3 linked regions of the Homo sapiens genome follow. The protein of the gene in region 3 interacts with the protein of the main gene of each other region in a biochemical or structural test. Each region holds a gene or a part of one and is shown on either strand. Other genes may lie near its edges. The genes, in order: RET, KCNA2 and PTPRA.

Region 1 (7,104 bases), on a different chromosome or scaffold from region 3:
TTAAAAAAAAAAGGTTTTTAACAAGATTTTATGGACCAGGCATAGTGGCTCACGCCTGTAATCCCAGCACTTTAGGGAGACCGAGGCGGGTGGATTGTTTGAGTCCAGGAGTTCGAGACCAGCCTAGGCAACATGGTGAAACCCTGTCTCTACAAAAAAAAAAAAAATACAAAAAATTAGCCAGGCGTGGTGGCACATGCCTGGATTCCAGGAACCTGGGAGGCTGAGGTGGGAGGATGGCTGGAGCCTGGGAGGTCAAGGCTGCAATGAGATGCAACAGAGCAAGACTCTGTCTCAAAAAAGAAAACCAATGTTATGGTTTGTAGGGTGTTTCTTAACCCTTGCCTGGCATGGCCTTAGGTCCTGTTTATAATTTGGTATCTTACTGCCACAAAGAGTCCGATCTGTCAGTCTTATGATCTCTGTTTTAATGTTAATGCCGGTCAGTTGTGTCCAAACTCCAGCAGGAAGAGGGCCTAATAAGGCAAGTCCACCCTGCCTTCCTGTCATGGCCCAGAATTCTGTTTTTAAGGTTTTTCTGGTGTCCCTTGGCCAAGAGGGGATCTATTCAGTTGGTCCGGGGACTCAAGATTTTAGTTTCAGTTTACAACTCTATACACAAACACCCCATACACACAGGCACCAATACCCTATGCACAGACACCACACAAATGCATACTACACACTTACACATACCACACACACGCATACCATGCAAGCATATCATACACACAGACACCCCATACAATGCGTACACATGCACACACACACAGGCTGCCTCAAATTGAGAAGGGTTCCTTGGACTTTCAGTTCAGTAAATCCCAACGTTTGAACATTGGTGCTAACTTAGGACCAGCCCCAGGCCTGTTGCATGGCACTGTATGTGTGAAAGTGCGTGTTTGCACCAGTGTGAGTGCAGGGCTGTGTCTGGGAAGAGGTGTGCTACACATGAGGAAGCAGCCAGAGCAGCTTGGTGGTCATTGTTGTGCCCCTACCTGCAGGGCTGGTTCTCAACCGGAACCTCTCCATCTCGGAGAACCGCACCATGCAGCTGGCGGTGCTGGTCAATGACTCAGACTTCCAGGGCCCAGGAGCGGGCGTCCTCTTGCTCCACTTCAACGTGTCGGTGCTGCCGGTCAGCCTGCACCTGCCCAGTACCTACTCCCTCTCCGTGAGCAGGAGGGCTCGCCGATTTGCCCAGGTGAGCCCATACCTATTGCCTGTCTGGGGAAGATTGAAAGGCCAAGGGACATGGGGGCACAGGGAGGCAGGTGACACTGCCTCTTGGCCCAACCAGCACAGAGTAGACTGGGTGGAGTCCTGAGCCCAGGGCCAGGAGGTACAGCTGTGTGCACAGAAGAGGCCTGGGAGAGCTCACAGTGGGCAGGGCTGGGGGCTCCTTGGGCCTCTCTTTTTTTCCCCTTTCCATTCTTGGTATCTTTAAAATGTATTTTCAAAAATGCAAGAGCAATACTGGGTAAATCTGCATATGGTGACTCGGAAGAATCTTCCTGGTGGATTGGTGAGAGTGGCTTGCAGAGATGTTGGTCCCACGTGACTCCCTTTGTGCAAAAGCAGATCTTCCCTGACAGGGATCTGCAAGTGTGCAGAGATCACAGTGCTGTCCACAGTGGTGCCCTCAGGGGGAGGCAGGAAACGCTTCCACTTTTTACTTTTTGTAACTAGGTTTGCTAGAAAGCGTATATTTATATTTGTCTTTGGAAAATAATGATTAGAAATAGAAGGCATAAAAGTAATAAATATTCATTAAAGAAGATGAGGCATGAGGCATGAGGCGTGATCCCTTCTACCCATAGGCGCCAGTGTTGCACATCGTGGTGTTCTTTCTGGGATGTTTCTCGTAAGCACTTATTAAGTTGACTTGAAACTGCAGCACGCATGTTCTCGCATGCCGCTCTCCCTTGCAGAGCAGCCCGTGGCGCCTCCTCTTCAGGGGCCATCTGCCAGTTCTTTCGGGTGGTTCTGTGCCCGCATCAGCTCCTGGCAGCCACCCGTGTCCAGCCCACGAGGGAGCCCACCCTTGGACATATCTAAGCTCCCCGACCACCTCCTTGGCCTTTAATGGGAGTGGGATCAGAGACAGAGGGGCGACAAGACAGAGGGCCCCGGGGGGTCTCATGGGGGGCGGGGCAAGAGCAGGCATTGCTGAAGTTGGGTCACCTGCCCTCTGTCAGGAGCAACGGGGGCCTGAATCCCAGTCCAGCCTCAGCCTCACTGTGGTCTCACCTTTCTCCCCAGTTTGTAAAGCTGTGAATTAGGGACAGGAACCCTGAACAATTTTGAGAGTCACATGAGCATTTGGAAGTGGGCTTTGTAGGGGAAAGTGAGGAGGCCCAGGAGGCTGGTTTTTGCTGTGGTCACTTGTGGGCCTGGGAGAGCCCAGCCCTGCTCTGGCCCGCCCCCATCTCGCCATCTGTGGAACTTTTGGTTTCAAGCAGCTGCAAGAGTTGCCAAGAGGTTGAAAGAATTCAGCTGCCTGACTCCAGGTCCTGGCATCCCCAGGAGAGGCCCCTCTTTCCCAGGGGCTCTGGTCAAAGTCCCAGAGCCTGGCATCCCCAGGAGAAGAGGCTCCTCTTTCCCAGAGGCTCTGCTCAAAGTCCCAGGGAGGCCCCCTGGTCCTGCATGGGCTGGGGCAACCATGCTCCCGAGTCTTGTGGCTGGGGTTCAGTGCTCTGACCAGGGGACACCAGGGCAGGGTGGACCTCTAAACCCTGTGCACTGAGGGAGGAGTGAGGGGTCCCCAGAGCACTGCTGGGGCAGCTGGGAGCAGCCAGGGAGGAGCCTGGGAGACATTCCGGCGGCTTTGTTGTCTGAGTGAGGGAGGAAAGGGGAGTAAAGGGTTGAGTCAGGGCCTGCCTGGGGCTTTTCCTGCCACCAAACTGAACCTCGAGGCCCTGGGTTGCCTTGACCTCCAGCTCCCAGGAACAGGGGCAGCTGGTAACATGTGGCCTGAGTGGAACGGGGCAGGGCAGGGCTGGGGCAGGTGGGTGGGTATGAAGGCTCTGAGGGGTGGAGGACAGGGTGCTCGGGGGGGCTGCTGTCTCCAGGCCCAGTTGGGGGCTGTTCCAGGACTTAGGCTGTGTGGGAATCTCTACCCTCAGGCCATTACAGGCCGGTCCAGCTGCCTGGCTAAGGTGTTCCCCTGTGCCCCCCTAGATCGGGAAAGTCTGTGTGGAAAACTGCCAGGCATTCAGTGGCATCAACGTCCAGTACAAGCTGCATTCCTCTGGTGCCAACTGCAGCACGCTAGGGGTGGTCACCTCAGCCGAGGACACCTCGGGGATCCTGTTTGTGAATGACACCAAGGCCCTGCGGCGGCCCAAGTGTGCCGAACTTCACTACATGGTGGTGGCCACCGACCAGCAGACCTCTAGGCAGGCCCAGGCCCAGCTGCTTGTAACAGTGGAGGGGTCATGTGAGTGCCTGCTCCAGGGAGGGAGGGTCGGGGTCCTGGGGGCTTCTGGAGCCTGGGCCTCCTGCCCTTTGAGAAAAGCAGTACAGCTGCAAGGCTTAGCTGGGGAGTGGGGAAGGCATGGACCAGCTTCACCCTGAGTGACCCAGCAGTAAATGGTTGCTCCTTCCAGATAACATACAGGACCTTGGGTAAATTTGAATTTTGGGTAAACAACAAGCAGTTTTTTGGTATAGGTGTGTTCCATGCAACTTTTGCAGCTTCTCGAAAGACACACCTCTAGGTCCATCCATGCCCTCTTAGGAACATGCTGACACAGCTGCCATTCATGCCATTCATTGTGTATCTGAAATGTAGGTCCCACAGGGCGTCGTTGGCTGAATCTGGCTGCACTCACATCCTTCCTCCTGTACTTACCCCAGCCCAGGTGACCCCTGCTTTGTGACCATGATGTCCTGTACCCTGCCCTGCGCCCTGTGCTCCTGGCACTGTCTTTGCTGCCCTGGGTCTGTCACTCCGGTCCCCTTGGGCTCCATCCGTGGGCAGCTCAGCTGGTGCTGTTCCCTGTCCTTGGGCACTAGCTGGACGCTGGGCCCAGGCCAGCCCCCTGTGACCCTGCTTGTCTGCCACCTGCAGATGTGGCCGAGGAGGCGGGCTGCCCCCTGTCCTGTGCAGTCAGCAAGAGACGGCTGGAGTGTGAGGAGTGTGGCGGCCTGGGCTCCCCAACAGGCAGGTGTGAGTGGAGGCAAGGAGATGGCAAAGGTAAGCCCTGGAAACGCCCAAGGGAGGCCTGCAGGGGCGATGGCACCGGTGGAAACGGGGTCCTGGGGCCCTGCCAGCCTGGGGTGGCTCTCCCTGCTCCAGGTCTGCTTCTGGCACCTCATCCCCCATGTGGCTCTCGATGCCAGCATAGCGGGCAGCAGTGCAGGGCTTGGGAGAGGGCTTGTGAGTACAGTGAATGGTCCCCAGGCCGGATTCACTCTGGACTTGGGAAGGTCTGAACCAAAGTTGGGATGTGCTGGGGACAGAATGGCGTTTTTCTGGGAGGTCCTCGGCCAGGGGATGTGGTGTGGGCAGGGGACTCATTGTCTGCATCAGCCAGAGGCCAGCCTGGGTGTGCCCACCACCATGAGGGGCCCTCACCATGCAGCCCTGAGAGGGTCCCGGCCTCTTTGCTGTAAGGGCCACCTGTGTGAGGAACCCCCCATACCTCCTCTCCCATAAGCCATGGCTCCCCAGGATGCTTCCGCTGGCAAGGCTCTGTATATGGTGTTTCCCTACTCAGGCCTCCAGTTGCTCCTCCCTAGAGGGGCAGGATCTGCCTAGGAGGTGGTGGGGGCGTGTGGCGGGGCTCCCACATGGGTGACAGCCTGCTGTGTGTCCTGTGCAGGGATCACCAGGAACTTCTCCACCTGCTCTCCCAGCACCAAGACCTGCCCCGACGGCCACTGCGATGTTGTGGAGACCCAAGACATCAACATTTGCCCTCAGGACTGCCTCCGTAAGCAGGGTTTAATCAGGGCATGGGAACAGGTAGGAGATAGTAGGGGAAACCTGGATCCCACAGGCACTTCAGCCAGAGTTGCCAGGGCTGTCAGTTCTATGCATCAAGCTGAGCCTCCTGTGCATTTCAGCATCACCCTAGCCATGGGGAGGGAGCAGGCAGGGTCAGGGACAGGGGGAAGGCAGGGACCCACAGACTGTCCAGGCCCCTGCTGAGGTCCCAGAAGTCGGCACACACAGATTTCAGAAGCAGAGAATGGTCAGTAGGGACACTGACAGGGAAAGTGCGGCCCTGAGCCAGACGAGGGACACTGCAATGTGCGGGTCAGGCCACCAGGCTCCAGTTTTGGAGGCAGAGTCCTTTGTTCAGATGAAATGTTAGGAGGGGGCCTGGCTTCACCCATGGCTTCAGAAAGGCACTGTGACCAAGCCCTGCCCGGCTAAGCCAAGCTGCTGGGCCCCTGGCCTCACTGGGCCTATGCTTGCGACACCAGTTGGGGAGGGGGCTCCTTGGGACACTGCCCTGGAAATATGGGCGCCTGGGGTGGTCAGGCGCCCCAGGAGGCTGAGTGGGCTACGTCTGCCCTCAGGGGGCAGCATTGTTGGGGGACACGAGCCTGGGGAGCCCCGGGGGATTAAAGCTGGCTATGGCACCTGCAACTGCTTCCCTGAGGAGGAGAAGTGCTTCTGCGAGCCCGAAGACATCCAGGGTGAGTGGGTGGCGGCCGGGACCACCACCACCTCCCAGCCCCACAGAGGTCTCAACAGCACATCTGAGGTCCCAACAAGGGAGGAAATTGCTGGGAGGCGAGTGGGCCCCATGAAACTTCCCTCCCTCCCTCTGGGCCTCTGTTACTCCACCCAGGAGAGGGGCCAGGGCCCCTGTAAAGTGTCTTCTGGCCATAAGTTCTATGATGGACAGGCCAGAAAAGCAGTTCTTCCACCAAACAACTTGTCAGCCTGACAAGTCACTGTCCCTGTGACCATGCAGCTGGGACCCACCCAGGAACACATTTCAAGGTCAGCAGGTATGGTGGGTTGCACAGCCACACTGACTACACTCAGGGGTGCTGTTCTGCCTGAGCATAGGGACACGTTTCTGTCATTGAGTTTTCTGGTATTATATAGCCCTACGTCCCTAGCCACTTAGCATTTTCATAAAGAAAATGCCAAAGACATTTGGAACAGAGGAAAATTTTGACCTCCCCTGCCAGCCCTCCAGTGCCAGCTGGTGTAATGAGCACAGCCTCTGCTGTGTGACCTTGGCAGGCTGCTCAGCCTCTCTGAGCCTCTGTCTCCATCTGTAAGAGGGCAATAGTGGTCTAGGAGGGGGCAGTAAATGGCAGTACCCATGCTCGATGGGGTGTTCTCAGGCCTTCCCACACCTCCATGGCCACTTCCCAGCTGGCGCGGACACGGCAGGCTGGAGAGCCATGAGGCAGAGCATACGCAGCCTGTACCCAGTGGTGCCGAGCCTCTGGCGGTGCCAAGCCTCACACCACCCCCACCCACAGATCCACTGTGCGACGAGCTGTGCCGCACGGTGATCGCAGCCGCTGTCCTCTTCTCCTTCATCGTCTCGGTGCTGCTGTCTGCCTTCTGCATCCACTGCTACCACAAGTTTGCCCACAAGCCACCCATCTCCTCAGCTGAGATGACCTTCCGGAGGCCCGCCCAGGCCTTCCCGGTCAGCTACTCCTCTTCCGGTGCCCGCCGGCCCTCGCTGGACTCCATGGAGAACCAGGTCTCCGTGGATGCCTTCAAGATCCTGGTGAGGGTCCCTGCGGGGCAGGGAAGATCCCCTGCCCTCCCCAGCTGCCTTCCAGGGAGGGAGGCCAGCTGGGGAGACAGAGGCCATCCTGTGAGGGGCTGCCAACGCTGGGCAGACGAGGCCTGTGTTCTGCCCCCATTTCCATAGGGCGCTGTGTGGGGACAGTCTGTGGGGTGGGACTGTGATGAGGTGCCGTTCCCATCTAGGTGAGAGGCAGTGGTCAGGGTCACAGCATCGGGCAGGGGAGCAGCAGTGTGGATGGAGGGGCACTGAAGTCAGAAGGGGGTGCCTTTCTGGGGAGCCTGGCCTGCAGGTCTGCATGTGCTACTCAGAGCCTCCAGGCTGTGCCGAGTATCCTGGAGCCTCCTTGTCCCGGCCAGGCAGGCCTCTGCCCTCT
Region 2 (7,104 bases), on a different chromosome or scaffold from region 3:
TCGCTAAAGAGCCAGAATGGATCCCCTGCTTTGAAACCAAGGACACCAAGGAGTAGGACTCCCTGGGACCAAATTCCACTGATCTGGACCTAAAGGGAGCCTCCTCTATGTGGAAATGTCTGAAGTCCGGGACTAAGTGATGGAGTCCCTAGATGATCCAAAGGCATCATTTTGATCTCCAGACCCAAACTCTCTCCCCATTAAACTGGCAACCAGAGCTGCTTTTTAAAAAGAACCAAAGGATGGGTAAAGAATCATTTCCCACCCCCCAGAAGAAGTAGAGTGCAAATGAGCACTGCACAGCCTAAAGGTAGACAGTAGGTTGACCCTGAAATGGCTTCAGGTAGGGGGCTTTTAACTCACCAGACTGGGCGTCTTTGCCTTTTGACGGAGTAGCTTAATTTTCCCAAACAGTGAATTGCAGGGGTCGGGCTATGCAGGGGTGGCTCCAGCCCAGGCCTCACTGCTGCCTAGTTAGCACCTACAGTTGTCTTGGGGCATGGGGCACCAGCTCAGGGTGCTAGGCCCAGGGTGCTCATTAGTGCCTGGTCACCCACATCCCCAGGTATCTGCAGGGCATCCCATGCCCAGCACAAAGCCTCTGTGCTTCTCTTCCTCTCCTTCATGGGAGGTGGTGCTGAATTTCCAAGGCATGGGGTGGGAGGGACACAGATCTTTGGAAAATAGAAGGTAAAGCAACCCATATCTGAGGCCTAGGTCAGGGATAGATATCTTATCACAGTGTCCTTGGCCCAGGACTCTAAAATGTTCACATACAGTCATGCACATTCACCACAAAATAGGTACACTGTTGTCACACACAAACATAAAACATGTAACGTGCAAAATACAGACAGACCAGGTTAACATAAAAGCAAACACAGAAGATATATGGTTATAATTGTATATAAAATGCACACTCTGCACAGATATAGAATTTACACAGAACATACACAAAAGACAAACATACACCACATACAAATATACAACCTGAAACTCAGATGCAAAATACATAAAAAACTACATGGACAAAATGCATATGCATATAAGATACACAAAGGCTACTTTACCATTGTTTCTACACATAAAATACACACAAACTCAGTATATACACACGATGCATTAACTTATAATAGGCATACAAGATACATAGCACACATGCCCAAAAATATCGCACAATACACATGAAATGCAGACATATACTCAGACCCATTGCCCTGCCCCCAGAGCTATGAATTAACAGGCACAAACAAAAGATCAGATGTAATCACCTTTGCCTGGCCTGTGTCTATATCCCCCAGGATCTTTCAAGGAATCTCTTTCTCTATTCTTTTCTCTCACTACCAGATTTCACTCCTGAGAAGTAACTCCTAGGTTTCAAGCAGGAGGATGGGCCACCACATCAAGCAGATATCTGACTAAGACCAGGAATTGCATGGGGTCTCTACCAATTCACCTTCCTCCCACCAGAAACCTGGGTGCAGGGTGTGAAAGTACCTGGGACAGCTGGTAGCCTAATATAGGCCTCCTTGCCATGACCCTTCCTTCCTTCCAGCAAATCCGCACAGACAACCCAATAGCCCAGGCTCCCCTTCTCCCAGCACCTGGGATCTCCAGATTCAGCCCTATTCTCTTAAAAGCAGTAATGGCTCAAGAAACTGCAGGATCTTGAGCCCAGGACCAGGGTAAAGATGTCCCCAACATTCTCTAAGCCCACAGATTTTATTGCCCTTCCATCCTTTGCAGCTTTGTTGGGGGCACGGTCAGGAAGTTGAGACCCTATAGAGACCTGTCTCTTAAAATGAGCCACCTTTACTTGCTTGTGGCATTTCACTTGCTCTTGTGCATAAGCCCAAAGGGGCCAACTCCTGATTCCCCTCTGGGTGTGTTCAATCCCGGGCACGCTCTTCCTTTTCCTCTTGTTGGGCTCCCCTGGATGCCCTGCCTCCCATCCAATTGCTATGCAACCCAGTTCAGCTTAAGTAAAAAGTGATTAAGAACATACATCTAAGGCTAAGCAAGCTAACACTTTTTAGAGGGCCTGACTTTATCCTATATTCTAAGGCCATATTTAAATACTTTCTAAGATTACCCACCATTTTGGATTACTCTTGGAGCTGGTTCTTCCCCTAAGTAGGACTAGCTGAGAGCTGAGTGCATTTTAGCAAAGGCTTCACCTACATCGGAAGTAAAGAGTTGCAGTCAGGCTTTGGATCAGGCCTCACTCCTGATTTCTGCTCCTGCAGCCATCCCGTTGTGTCTCACTCTCCCTTCCAGTGATGGTCGCAGCTCCCAGTCTCTACAGAAAAGGTAACAACAGTAGGGAGTGGACATATGGGTCCAAAACGTGTGCTTTGCTGGAAACTTGTGTTTCCAGGTCAAGGTACCATTCCTGTTGGCTTCATCAAGTGCCTCTGTGGATTCATTTTCAAGAAACTTGGAGTTTTCAGGAGACCGAAAAGGAATAGGCCCAGGAAAGGTGGAGAGATTGTCAGGAAGAGAGAGTGGCTGAGTGGGTCAAATTTCAGAGTAAACTTTTTAGGAGCCAACATTTAATTAAGAAAATAATTAAGGCTCTGTGCTTTCTGAAACTTCAGTAATATTTGACATGCTCTCTTCCTTCTTCTCTGCTTGCCTCTGTCCCTCTCACCTGTGTTTCTGAGGCTAGTGTTGGCATGTCACCATGAGGTTAGCCTTTTAAAAGGGGCCCCACGGGAGTGTGCCTCTAGATTGCGTTAGCCTAGTATGGAAAGGGCTCCCATGGAAGCTATGATGGCCTGAGACCCCAGCCTGGGTGTTCATGTTGCTGCTCCGTGTTGGGAGGGCCCAGGACTAGCTTGTTCTACCTATTCTTCCTGGATCTCTCACTATATTATAGTGAGGACTCTATCAGTATCAACCCATGTGGAGAGAGGACAGCACCCTCTGAAGCTCCTCAGGCTGGGGATTCAGCACTGCCCACAGTAGTAGAGTCACAGAGGCTGACTCCCCCCTAAGGAAACTATAGAACAGTGTGCAAATTGCATATGAAGGTGGCACCACTACCCCTATGTCAGGCAGGGGAGCACAGTGCTTTGACTTGTTTACTCAAGAGAGGGGATGATGGTGCTGAGCTCTGCTCCCCAGAGCTTTCCTGGGGCCCATTGTCATAATAACTTGTATGTGGGTGATGGCCGCCTCATCTGCGAGGGCTATAATATCCATGGTGCTCCTTGGTTGCACAATGGAGGTTCCCCTAGCCTTGGCAAGGTATCCATTGCCGGGTTTGAACTCATGACCTTAACCTCATTAACATCATCAGTCACCTGAGCCAACGCGCAGAGAGGGGGATGCTGGGAGCTCTCTCAGTAGCTATTGTGACCATCATCTATATCTTCAGACTTAGCCCTTGTTGAGTCCAACCCTGTTCCCCTATCAAAGCAACCAGCAGGGACAGATGGAGGTAGGGGCTCCCCTACATGCAGGAAGGTTCTCTTCCTCAAACTAACCTAGTTTACTTTTCCTTTTTTTCTGCTTCCCTTCCCACCAAATCTCAGCTTCATCTCTCATAGTTTGTGTTTGAATATTTTTAAAGAGGAAAAGTGCAATAAAATAAATAGTGACTGTTTTCTTTAGCAATAGCTCTTTCAAAATCTTGCTCTCAGGACTGAAAAGTGATAGATAGTACCTGGATTATCAGATAATGCCCTTGACTTCTGGGGGCTCATTCACAGTCTCTGTAGTTTCTTCTTCTTCCCACGTGTTCACATGACTCCTGTCCTCTTGAGATCTGACCTCCTTCTGGAATGGACACATATGCTAAGATGCAGTGTATGCACAAGGAAGGCCTGTGAGAGGGCTTTGTCACTTTGTCTCCTTCCTGTGTGCACCTCTCTGTCTCCATGTGTGTCTCTGTCCCCTCTCCCTCTGTCTCCCCATTTCTGCCTGCTGTCATACAGCATCCTTACAACCTCTAGGCATGAAAATCCTAAGTTTGTGTGACCTTTTCAGCCCATTTTGTTGACTTTCCCTCAGTCTGGCAGATGTAATGGAAGCCTACACGAAAGCACTTCCCAATAGATAAGAATAAAGCATCCTGAGCCATTACAGAAGATCATTTCCATGCACTAAAAGCCATTACTTGATCCTTTTGCTTCCCCTTCTCCCTTCCCCAGGGAGACGGATGCTGAGGGAATGTGGCCTGGAGGTTTGCACTTGGGATCAGTAGCCTGGGCAGATTTGGGAATTGCCCTCTGACTCTCTTTCAAAATAAGCTGACTTGCTCAACCAAAGGGACTCCGTGAGAGCTGCAGAAGGAAGCAGGTTCTTGTGGGTTTCAGTAGAAGTCTACAGGGATAGAAGTTTGGGTGGTTAGGGCATGACATTAGTGAAATAAAGACTCTACCACCCGCTAGAGTGTGCAGCTGCACAAATATTTGCACACATAGCCAGGGGCTTCAGAAGAGTCCCCTTTCCTAACATCTGTGAGCTTAAATGTTCAGACTGGACAATCAGGGAAGGCTGGCAACCCCAGGGTCCCATTCCATCCTTTTTTGATCTACCTTGCTCTATACACATATGTACAGCAAAACCTCAGTTAACTGATGGGGAAACCTCAGGGACAGGAACATCCTGATTGCTTTGCAATTTTGGTTATTTGAGTGGGAATGGGAAAGCATGTCTGGTTCAACCTTTGTTATTGAGAAAAATATTTCCTAAGTAGGTTAGCATAACTTTCCTGCCTTAGTTAAGTAGAGTGTTTGAAGATAACAGGGACCTTGCCTTGCTCAGGGTCAACATTGTAAACCTCAATGCTTATTGTACAGTAGTGGACATAGGTAGAGAAGACCAAAGAGACAGGCTGAATGGCTGCTGGCTACAAGACAGGCCTGGAAATGGGCCACTGGGGCACATCCTGGCTCATCGGAGCCCTTGCTGTCATTTGCCTCTTTCTACTGAAAGGATAGTAAGAAAACATAATTCTTGTCAATCGAGGTTTTGGTTAATTGGTCCTGAGTTTTTAGAGGTTTTCCATATATACATATATTTATGTGTGTATATATATATATATAGTATATGTATATATGTATACTATTTTTAAATTATAGAATTATACATTGACCAATCTCCTTAGTTTCACTTATGTGGAATAAATTTGGCAATCCAAGGAATAAACTGCATTTATGTGCATTTTTTGAATGACCTCCTTTGCATTCTTTTCACCTCTCCAGTTCTACTCTTTTTTTTTCTGCTTAGGGACCTCTCTAGAAGGCAGATCTTTCATAAAAAAAGAACAGGCTACAGGATCACCTCTTTCCTTTCCCTCCCAGGTGGCTGCCTGACTCAGGGATAAAAGGGAAGTCTGATCTAACAGCCAGGTGCTTTAGCCTTTCTTCTGTCTGCCCTGGTTGGCTATAACCTCATCACTGAGGATCAGAAAAGTTATTCCAAACTTTGTACTCGAGGGGAGTGGAAAGCTTGAAGACCTGGCAAAGGATTTATCTATTTAGCATTCTCTTTGTCATTGGTGGTGCCCTAGGTTTGAGGTTTGTGAGATCTGAAAGTAACATTCCAATGAAGAACTAAAGCACATCTCTGCCACACAGAAGGTGAGGTTTGTGGCAATCAATGGAACTAACAAATCCATTCTGTTTTTTATTATGACTAAACCTAAGTTGAGGGTGTGGGTATTAGAGCAGCTGAAATTCAGTTGCCTCTTTGGGGGTAAGCTGTACACATCACTCAAGAAACAGCTGGATGCAAGCTAAAACCTGCTCTCATTCTCCCTCTTGCCTGCTAGTGTGTTAGATCCATGGAAGACAGTTTCTCTCAGCCTCACCTCTTGCATTTGACTGTTGCTTTCTACCTAGATGGGAGTGGGAGGGATTTTTCACTGTATCTGGAGCAATTGAAGTGGTGCAGGGGTGTCTGCCATCTCCCCACACCCACAGAAGCCCTCCAGTCTGGCTATGTTAGTTGTGATCAGGCAGCAGAAGCCCATAACCCAGACTTGACATGACCAGCTGGTGCACTGAGGCAGTTGAGGTGGCCTGTCTGGATGGCTACTTCTTGTACTTCATGAACCTCAGCATGGAAATGGATATAACTTTCTGTGCTCCTCTGCACTCCTAAAATAGTCTAATATGTTCCAGATGAGTTTGCAGCTGAGAACTCCCTGCATCATTCCACTGATGGATGCACAGGGCATGATTATGTAATAATGTGGACAGCTACTGCAACATCTAGATCATTGAGGGCAGTGTAGATGTGGCTGTGTGCTAGGACCCTTGGTAGCTATCCAGAGGACTCAGTCTGGTGTCTTTCTGAGTCTCTGTGAGAGGCCTCTAAGCCCTGCTTCTCCTTGAAAATGATTCCCTAGACACCGAATGCCTTGTTTGTATGAGTGAATAAATGCTCTGGGCTGCTAGAGAAAGCAATAGGAGGAGCTGGGAGGAAGAGAATATTCAGGGGCGCACTTTGCTACCAAACAATTTCCATGTCAGCTGCTAACATTACTGCCTTTTTAGCCTATGAAGTGTAGGGCAAGGACTTTGACCTGCCAGGTGGGGCTGGAAAGGAGCACATCAGCTCCAGGCTAAGAAATGGGATAGAAAAGCAAGAAGAGAGGCCTGGCTGGCTTTGGCGGGGGTGAGTCTCAGCTCCTGAGGGTTTGAACATGCTCTGTGCTTGCCCCAGTTCTGCCTTCACGTGGGATCCAGCGACCCAGTTTCCTTTTGTTGTCGTGCTTGGATGGTTCCTTCATTTGAAGGGCCCCAGGAAGCTGGAAAGTCCCATGATCAAGCTCTAGCCTGCTGAGCAAACAATACCCCAGCCAAATTGGCCTCTTCCTGGTTTTCTGCATCCCTGCACCCCTCTCTCCACTAAGGATAATCTTGGAACAGTTGCGATTAATGGTGCCAGCAATCAAGGAAGATTCTCTAGTTTTCATCAGGGACATAGCTGTAAAGCTCATGAGTGGAGGATGCTATTTCCTTTTCCAGACCTGTGTGCTTATGTGCTTATATAGGCTGCCTCTGGAGACTTTATATTGTGTGTGATGTGTGTGTATATATATATACACACACATATATATATATATGTATATATATATATAGAGAGAGAGAG
Region 3 (7,750 bases):
TAAAAGCATGTCAACAGAAAGAACAAATAACTCTCTATATATGTTGATAATAGAATGATTTCCTAAATATGTTAAGTAAAAAAACCCAGTAAGGTGTGAGTGGTACGTCCCATGGTGGGAGGAGTATGGATAAGCAGGCACATATTTATAAAGCAACAGTGTCTATGGAAGGCCATATAAACTGAAAACTTCAGCCATCTCTGGGGAGGAGGTTAGGGAGACAGGAGACTTGGGGCCAGGGTAGGAGGGACATTTTTCTCTATATACTCTTTTGTATTGCTAGAACTTTTGAATTTTTCTCTCATCTGCATTAATTATCTTTTCCCAAAATTGAGCAGGATTCTCTCTACACCTTCCTCTGGGTCTAAGAGGCTGTGACTCTACCTCTGTCAGACCCAACCAGTGCCTCCTATATTGCAGGGGCATCTGCATTTGGCCCTATATTGCCCCCAAATGATCTTTCCAAAATTCTTTCAGCCCAAGTCCCTGACCTCCTTTAAATCCTCTAGTAGCTCTCCATTGTCCTTACCTGATCCAGCTATGATTAACCTCTTCCCTCCTCCCCAAGGACAGTGGATTCCTTCCACCACCAAGTTTGCTTGTGCTGCTCCCTCTTGCCTATGTGTGCAGTCCACCACGCGCAAACTCCTATGCATCCTTCATGATCCGAAGGCCCCCCCGTCCCAGGAAAGCTTTCCCAAATCACCCAGGCAGGGGATGCTCCCTACACAGCCTGGCAGAGGCTCTGCAAATACACGGCCAAAATTCAAATCTTGACTATTCCCTCATTTGCCCACTGTTTGGCCTCAGTTTCCAACCCTGTAGAGTAGGAATAAGCCCTTTTATGACTGTTGAAAAGACTGAGGGAATTCATGGAAAACATTACATAGCTTGTCACAAGGCAAATAAAAAATAGCTATTATTATTATCACAATCTTATAGCACCTGTGATGTATTTATATCCACCTGTCCTACATTAGACTCTGAGTTCCTCAAAGGTTAAGGACTGACTTCCTCACTTTTGTATCCCAAGCAATTCACCTGGCAAAGGGAAGACACATGAATGTACTGAAGTCAGAGGGGTGGTTTTTCTGGTTCTGTATTTCACCCAGATGTTAAGTGGCTAAACAGAGAACAGGCCCCGGGATCCCACCATGCCTTACAATGCACGGTATCAGCCAGGTCACTTTGAGCAGGCAGAGGTGAAAAGAGACTGAAGGGCTTTTAGTCTTTCAGAGACAGTTTTTTGGAGGCCAGTGGGATATGGGACCTACCAGTTCCCACCTGCTGACTGCTTATGGGGGCTGGGTGGGATGGACATGGGGAAGCCGGGAATCAGAAATACTAAAAGTCCTGGGCATGTACTCCAAGCAGGCCTTCAAAACACGAAAAAATCTCTTGGGAAGTGGATACCGGGAAATAAACAGAGCCTAGGCATAAGAGAGAAGAGATTGGAAAGAATCTACAAGACAACTTGGAGGATTCTCCCACCACGGGAGATAGAAAGGTGGGCAAGACACAGCTCCTGCCCGCAAGAAGCTTCTCAAATGAGAAGAACTTTAAAAGAAAAAGTGGAGCTTGGCAGGTAAAGGTGGGGAAGAAAGAGGATCACATAAAACAAAAACATCCCAACATGTGAGGGGGCAGTCAAGCAGCTCTGAATACTAGCCAGCAAGCGGGATGAGGGGAAGGAGAATTGGAGGATCCGATTAGGCTAAAAGTAAAGGAGTAAATTGAGGCAAGATTGTCAAGGGCTTTGTATGACCTGATAAGGCATTTTAGGCTTCATTCATCCCATGGGAAAAAGAAAAGCGAGGGAGTTTTTAAGTAAACAAGTGACAGCATCAGATCTGTTTCTGAAAGGAGTGGCCAGGCAGGAAGATGTTCGCCCTTTCCTAGTCAGTCCTCCTCTCGCCCACCATCTTCTGTTTCTCAGGCTGCCTGCACAGCTAGCAGGTGGCAAACGAAGCCATCTCCAGGGTGATGTGGACTGGTTCTAGAGCCGGAATCCCTCTCCTGAGCAAAGGCTTCTGATGGCGTTCACCCTGCAGAGGGTGGATTTGCACATTCTTCTTTTCCTGTCTTACAAATATCATCAGTGATCTCAAAAATAAAAACGAAACCCTCAAGACAGGACTCTGCTCTGCTATTTTTTTTTTTTAATCTTCAGGAGATATAATTAGTAACTAATTTTTTCAAAAAAAATTTTTTATTTACCGAAAGTAAAAAGGGAGGGGACCTGCGTTCTCAATTGGCCTATTCTGAATTCTGGGCAGCTCTCAGCCCTTATTTCCCTTCTTAAACAGCCTCAACAGTTGGGAGAGGGCGGCAAGGAGAGGGGCCTGGGAGACGGGCCGGGGGACCGAGGGAGGTGGACTTGAAGGGAAAGAAAAGTTGGTCACTGCAAAAGCAAATTTTCTCATGCCAAGAGTTTTCCTCTTTCCTCCCATTAAATGGACCTGAGCAAATTCTGTTCTCGCCGTTCTAAGTTTCTTCTCTGAGAATCAACTCTGGCAGTGCCCTGGCCTGGTCCCAGAAGGACGCATGCAAAGTTCCTGGGCAGTCGCGAGGGGTCGGCACTCGGGCCGGCACGTTTCCGGGGACCCCCTCCCCGCGACGGACCCGCAAGGATGCACAATCAACCTGCAGGCGCCCGCAGGCTTCTACCCGGAAAAGATGGCTTAGGGCTTCGGGCTCCGGGCTCTGGGCTGTGGCCCGGGACCCCTCCCACCGCCCCCGGGAGCCGCTCCCCCTTCCGGAGCCCACCCGGGCGCAGCGGCCGCGAACACTCACAGAGTCGGGCGTTGGGCGGGACCGCTGGGGACGAGGACAGCGGCTCCGCCTCGGCTCCGCGGCGGCGTTTCGGGCCGCCACTAGCCCTCAGGGCCGCCGCCCGGCCCGCGGCTCCGAGCCCCGCGGCGGCGGCGGCGGCCTCGCCTCCATGGCGAGGGGAAGCGGCTGAGGGGCGACTGGGCGGGCGACAGTGATGGCGGCAGCGGCCGGGGTCCGAGCGCGATCGCGCGCGCGCGCGTCTCTGTCAGCGCCGCACTCGCCGCAGCCTCGCTCCCGACCCGGCCTTGGCTGTAAGACGCGTGTTCATTGGCTGTTCAGAGACAGGCGCTGGTTGGCCGACAGCGAACGGGCGTCTCCGGCCCGCGCGGGCCCCGCCCTTGCGCTCCGCTGGGCGCTCACTTGCCGGCTGGGGCGCCGAACCCGGTCGCACGTTCTCCTGGTAGCTCCAGAGGGGTTCGCCCCGGGGCTGCCCAGTCCTTCGGGAAGCTGGACCCCGGAAGGACCGGCTGCGAGTGCACCAGTGCCTTCAGCCATTCTACAGTCACAGGCCTCATGACTTGGGCCTTCTTCCCAGTTTACAGATCAGGAAACCGAGGCCAGGCACAAACTACACCAATGTCTAGCCACCAGGGCGGCCTGCAACTCGAGAGCCATCTTCCTAACCCTCTCCAAACGTGATACTGTGGGTCTTTTTTTTCCCTCCCCTAATTGCTGCAAAGAACGACGGATCTCACTGGGGAGGGAGAGGAACCTGCCAAGTCCCTAGAACGGATCTGGCTCCGTGGGTGTCGTCTTATATCAAGTCAGCCCACGCCGTCCCCACCCGAGCTCCAGGGTAATCTCCCCCGCTTTCCAGATGCGCATGCTGGGGCCCCGCTCGCCACCGAGCTGAGTAGAAGCACAACACATGGTGCTCTGCGATGGAGGTGCCTTTTGCGATACGCCTGGCGGGGGAGGGGAGGCTCAAAACGCAGAGAGGAGCCAGAGTGCGCCCTCCCCCGGCCGGGGTTGGGGCGCGTACCCCCTTCCCGGCGCTCCCGGCACGGCGTCTGGTGCGTGACACCCGCGAAGCAATCGCTCAGTCCATCCAGCGGCAGCAGGTTCCTACACGGATCCCCGCGGGTGCTGCAGGACCTGAGCGTCTGCGGCTGAAAGCCGATTACGCAGTCGAGATAGGTGGTGGCAAATGCGACATTTCGCCGGGTTGTGATCCCCAGTAGGGACCCCTGGACATTCCGAGACCCGCGCAGGGCGAGCGGCTGGGCGTCTGCAGGCAAAAGACAGATTGCACAGTAGCGCACAAACCGAGCTTGCGGGTAGGGGACGCTTTATCCCAGACCCAGAGTCTGCGGTTCCCGGGGTAGGTGGCGGCGAGTCTCTCCTCCAGACCGGGCAACCCCTGAGTCCCCCTCACGCACCCCAGGCCGGAAGGAGTCCCACATTCGGGGCGCCCCCGGGGAAGGGTTGTGACCGGCGGCAACTCTTCATGGCAGGAAACACTGCGGCGCAAAAGGGGCTCCCAGCAGCCCCCACCATCTCCAGTCCTACCATCTCCGGTCCCCACCACCGCCTTCTGTTGGGGCGCCAGTTAGGGACTCTGTGCCCCACTCCTCCGTATTGTGGGCTCACATCAGCAGCCCCTACCATCTCCAGTCCTACCATCTCCGGTCCCCACCACCGCCTTCTGTTGGGGCGCCAGTTAGGGACTCTGTGCCCCACTCCTCCGTATTGTGGAATAAGTTAGTCCATGCTAACCAGAGCCAGGGCCTGGGAATATGGGTGGGGCGGGCCTCAGGCCGTCCCCTCCCCAGCAGGGAAGTCTCTCCTTGAGTGGGAGTTGTGACTCTCTCTCCCTCTCAGCAGGGCCAGCCTAGAGGTGAGGGTGAAATGGCCGAACCCGACACCTCTGACCAATAGACACTCCAGCCCAAAGGCCCAGAGTCCACACGCCTACTCTCCTAACGCTCAGACCCCAGTGAGGGTGGATCCTTCCCCACGCCCAACATTCACATATCCCCTTAAGTCCAAACTCAATCTATCCCGCAACACCGAATGGAAAAGTGAAAAGCAGGAAGTCAAAGTGTGAAAACCCCTAACAAGTAATGACTGCAAACGCAGGAGGTACCTCAGTAGCTGGGATAGCAGCCCTATGCTCTAGAACCAAACCCCACCAGCTTACTTTTGCCTTATATCTAATTTACACTATTATTTCTTAATATGTTTCTTTTTGTTGATTAGTTTTTTTTTACTTTTTATTTGTATTACCCTAGAAGGGGTTGACATGCTACTTATATTTTTAATATAACTGAAATAGTGATTGCAGTAAGTGTTCATCTTTGAGATTATCTGAAGGACCCCTTTTGGATATGACCACACTTGGAAAAATTGTTGTTGGGCGTGGTAGTCAAAGAGCCCGGGGTTTCCAGCCCCACCATGTGCTGGGTGACCTGAGCCTCCCTCTGCAACTCTTCCTGGAACTTCCCAGGGCTGTATTGAGAATTAGGCATGTTCAGCTTGGCAAGTAACCCATTCTCAGGAAATGAAAGTTCTTTCTCTCCCCATGAGACAGCTGCACTATGGTCAAAGCATTTGTGGGGTGTGCACAGGGGTGACAGAACTACAGACCAAGGAGAACTACAGACCCTGGAGACCCTGGGAAGGAGGGTTCAGCTCAGCAACCACACAGATGCTGTTTCCATTGGAAGAAGACAGAGCCCCCTCCTCAGCTGCCTGCCTGTAGAGACCTGCCCAGCCCTCCATCCTACTTGGCTCCCAGAGTGTCCTGAGCTCCCTCGCCCATCATCATCACAGAGTAAAGGGTTATCCTGGAAGAGAAGAGAACTGAGGAAGGGAAAGGAGGCAGTTTCCTGTGCCCAAGCCTACCCAAATGGGGGACTGCAGAGCCCTCCTACTCCTAGTCCTGCATTAGTCCCAACCCACAGGAGCACATACCTACAGGTAGGCATTTCGCAGCCACCCCACAGGTGCCCCAACAGTCACAGGGTTTATGAGCAAAGGAGAGGATCAGGAGAGCTGGAGGATGGGGGGAAAGGACTCCTGTTTCTTTAGGCAAGTCATTTCCCCTCTCGGGGCCTCCTTTCCCCTTCTAGTAAATGGAACAATGAGTCATTCTCGCAACAAATACTTATTGAGTGCAGACCATGTGCTGGACACAGCAGGGAATAAGACAGAAGAGGACAGAAGAGGCCTCTGCTCTCAGGAGCTTACATTCTGGATAGGAACACAGACAATAAACAAAAGAACAAGAAAATTTCCTAAATGCTGAAATGAAAATAAAGCAAGGCAATAAGATAGAAAGGTGAAGTAAATGAGAGCCAAGTCCCTTTGCAGGCCACACTGTTCAAACCCGAGTTTTTTTTTTCTTTTTTTTGAGACGGAGTTTTTGCTCTTGTTGCCCAGGCTTGAGTGCAATGGCACGATCTCGGCTCACTGCAACCTCTGCCTCCCGGGTTCAAGCGATTCTCCTGCCTCAGCCTCCCGAGTAGCTGGGATTACAGGCATGCGCCACCACGCCTGGCTAATTTTGTATTTTTAGTAGAGACAGGGTTTCACCATGTTGGCCAGGCTGGTCTTGAACTCCTGACCTCAGGCGATCTGCCTGCCTCAGCCTCCCAAAATGCTGGGATTACAGGGGTGAACCACTGCGCCTGGCCAACCCCAAGAGTCTTTCACTGGAACTTTGTATCTAAGAGACTGGACATACAGCCCCTTACCCTGAGAAGGTGAGTTGTAGGAGCCTTTGCTCGATATATATATATATATTTTTAAGACAGAGTTTCACTCATTGCCCAGGCTGGAGTGCAATGGCGCCATTTCAGCTCACTGCAACCTCCACCTCCTGGGTTCAAGCAATCAAGCGATTCTCCTGCCTCAGCCTCCCAAGTAGCTGGGATTACAGGACCCGCCACCACCCCCAGCTAATTTTTTTGTATTTTTACTAGAGACAGGGTTTCACCATGTTGGCCAGGCTGGTCTCAAACTCCTGACCCCAGGTGATCCACCCACCTAAGCCTCCCAAAGTGCTGGAATTACAGGCATGAGCCACTGCGCCCAGCCTTTGCCCTGATTCTCCCTGCACTGGCTACCACTGATACAAGAAGAAATGTTCCCAGATTCTTTGCCTCCAGCTACACAGTCCTAGTTCCTAGCCCCAATCCTAGCGTCATACATTGGACGAAACTTGGCCCTGCCCACCCATGTAGGCATAGGCCTGCTGTACAAACTGCTCAGGGCAGAAGGCATCTCACACTAATTTCAATTGAGTAAGCAAGGATTTGAAAAAAGAAAATCCCAGTTCTGGTTTTTAAATGTCACAATTCATAGGCTTATACATCTGTCAAAACTTAGAAAATTACATTTAAGATCTGTGGATTGCAATGTATGTAGATTTTGCCTGAAAAGAAAAAAAAAATTGCAAACCAAAAATGAACTCTAGTTATTGAAATGCATACTGAAGTATTTAGGGGGAGGTGTACTGATGTCTGCAACTTACTTTGAAATATATGAAAAATACGATGGATTGACATAGAGGAATGGATAGATGAACAGATGTGTGATATAGTAAGATGCTAATGGTAGAATCCAGTGGTAGTTACACAAATGTTCACTGTAAAATTATTTCTACCTGGCTGTATGTTTGAAAGTTTTTATAATAAACTGTGGAGGTGGGGGGCAAATCAGTGATTAACTTTACAAAAAAGTATACAAAACTGCCTTTTTAAAGCAACTCTCCCCATAGACAATTCCAATGCTTCTCTACATGCACACACACCTTTTATAAAGTTGAAATCACTGTTGATATACATTTGTCATCAGTTAAAAGTTATTTCTCACATATTTCTAAAACTTCATATGTACAGTGTTTGTTTACATAGCCTATGAGTAAATATACTGTATGTTACTTTGGAGATGTGGGTTTTGTATTGTGTACATTCTA

What was found.
Region 1: of the proteins of PTPRA (region 3) and RET, one has a biochemical effect on the other in vitro, tested with the Homo sapiens proteins (one study listed by BioGRID).
Region 2: the proteins of PTPRA (region 3) and KCNA2 form a complex in vitro, tested with the Homo sapiens proteins (one study listed by BioGRID).

The regions. Positions count from the first base shown.
Region 1 is NC_000010.11:43,108,030-43,115,133, forward strand, and holds part of RET (proto-oncogene tyrosine-protein kinase receptor Ret isoform a precursor), read left to right. Parts: intron 1-1,001; coding exon 1,002-1,201; intron 1,202-3,177; coding exon 3,178-3,436; intron 3,437-4,069; coding exon 4,070-4,195; intron 4,196-4,823; coding exon 4,824-4,934; intron 4,935-5,526; coding exon 5,527-5,646; intron 5,647-6,450; coding exon 6,451-6,707; intron 6,708-7,104. UniProt on the Homo sapiens protein: Receptor tyrosine-protein kinase involved in numerous cellular mechanisms including cell proliferation, neuronal navigation, cell migration, and cell differentiation in response to glia cell line-derived growth family factors (GDNF, NRTN, ARTN, PSPN and GDF15).
Region 2 is NC_000001.11:110,594,283-110,601,386, reverse strand, and holds part of KCNA2 (potassium voltage-gated channel subfamily A member 2), read left to right. Parts: 3' UTR 1-7,104. UniProt on the Homo sapiens protein: Voltage-gated potassium channel that mediates transmembrane potassium transport in excitable membranes, primarily in the brain and the central nervous system, but also in the cardiovascular system.
Region 3 is NC_000020.11:2,868,804-2,876,553, reverse strand, and holds the start of PTPRA (receptor-type tyrosine-protein phosphatase alpha isoform 1 precursor), read right to left. Parts: upstream 3,074-7,750; 5' UTR 2,794-3,073; intron 1-2,793. UniProt on the Homo sapiens protein: Tyrosine protein phosphatase which is involved in integrin-mediated focal adhesion formation.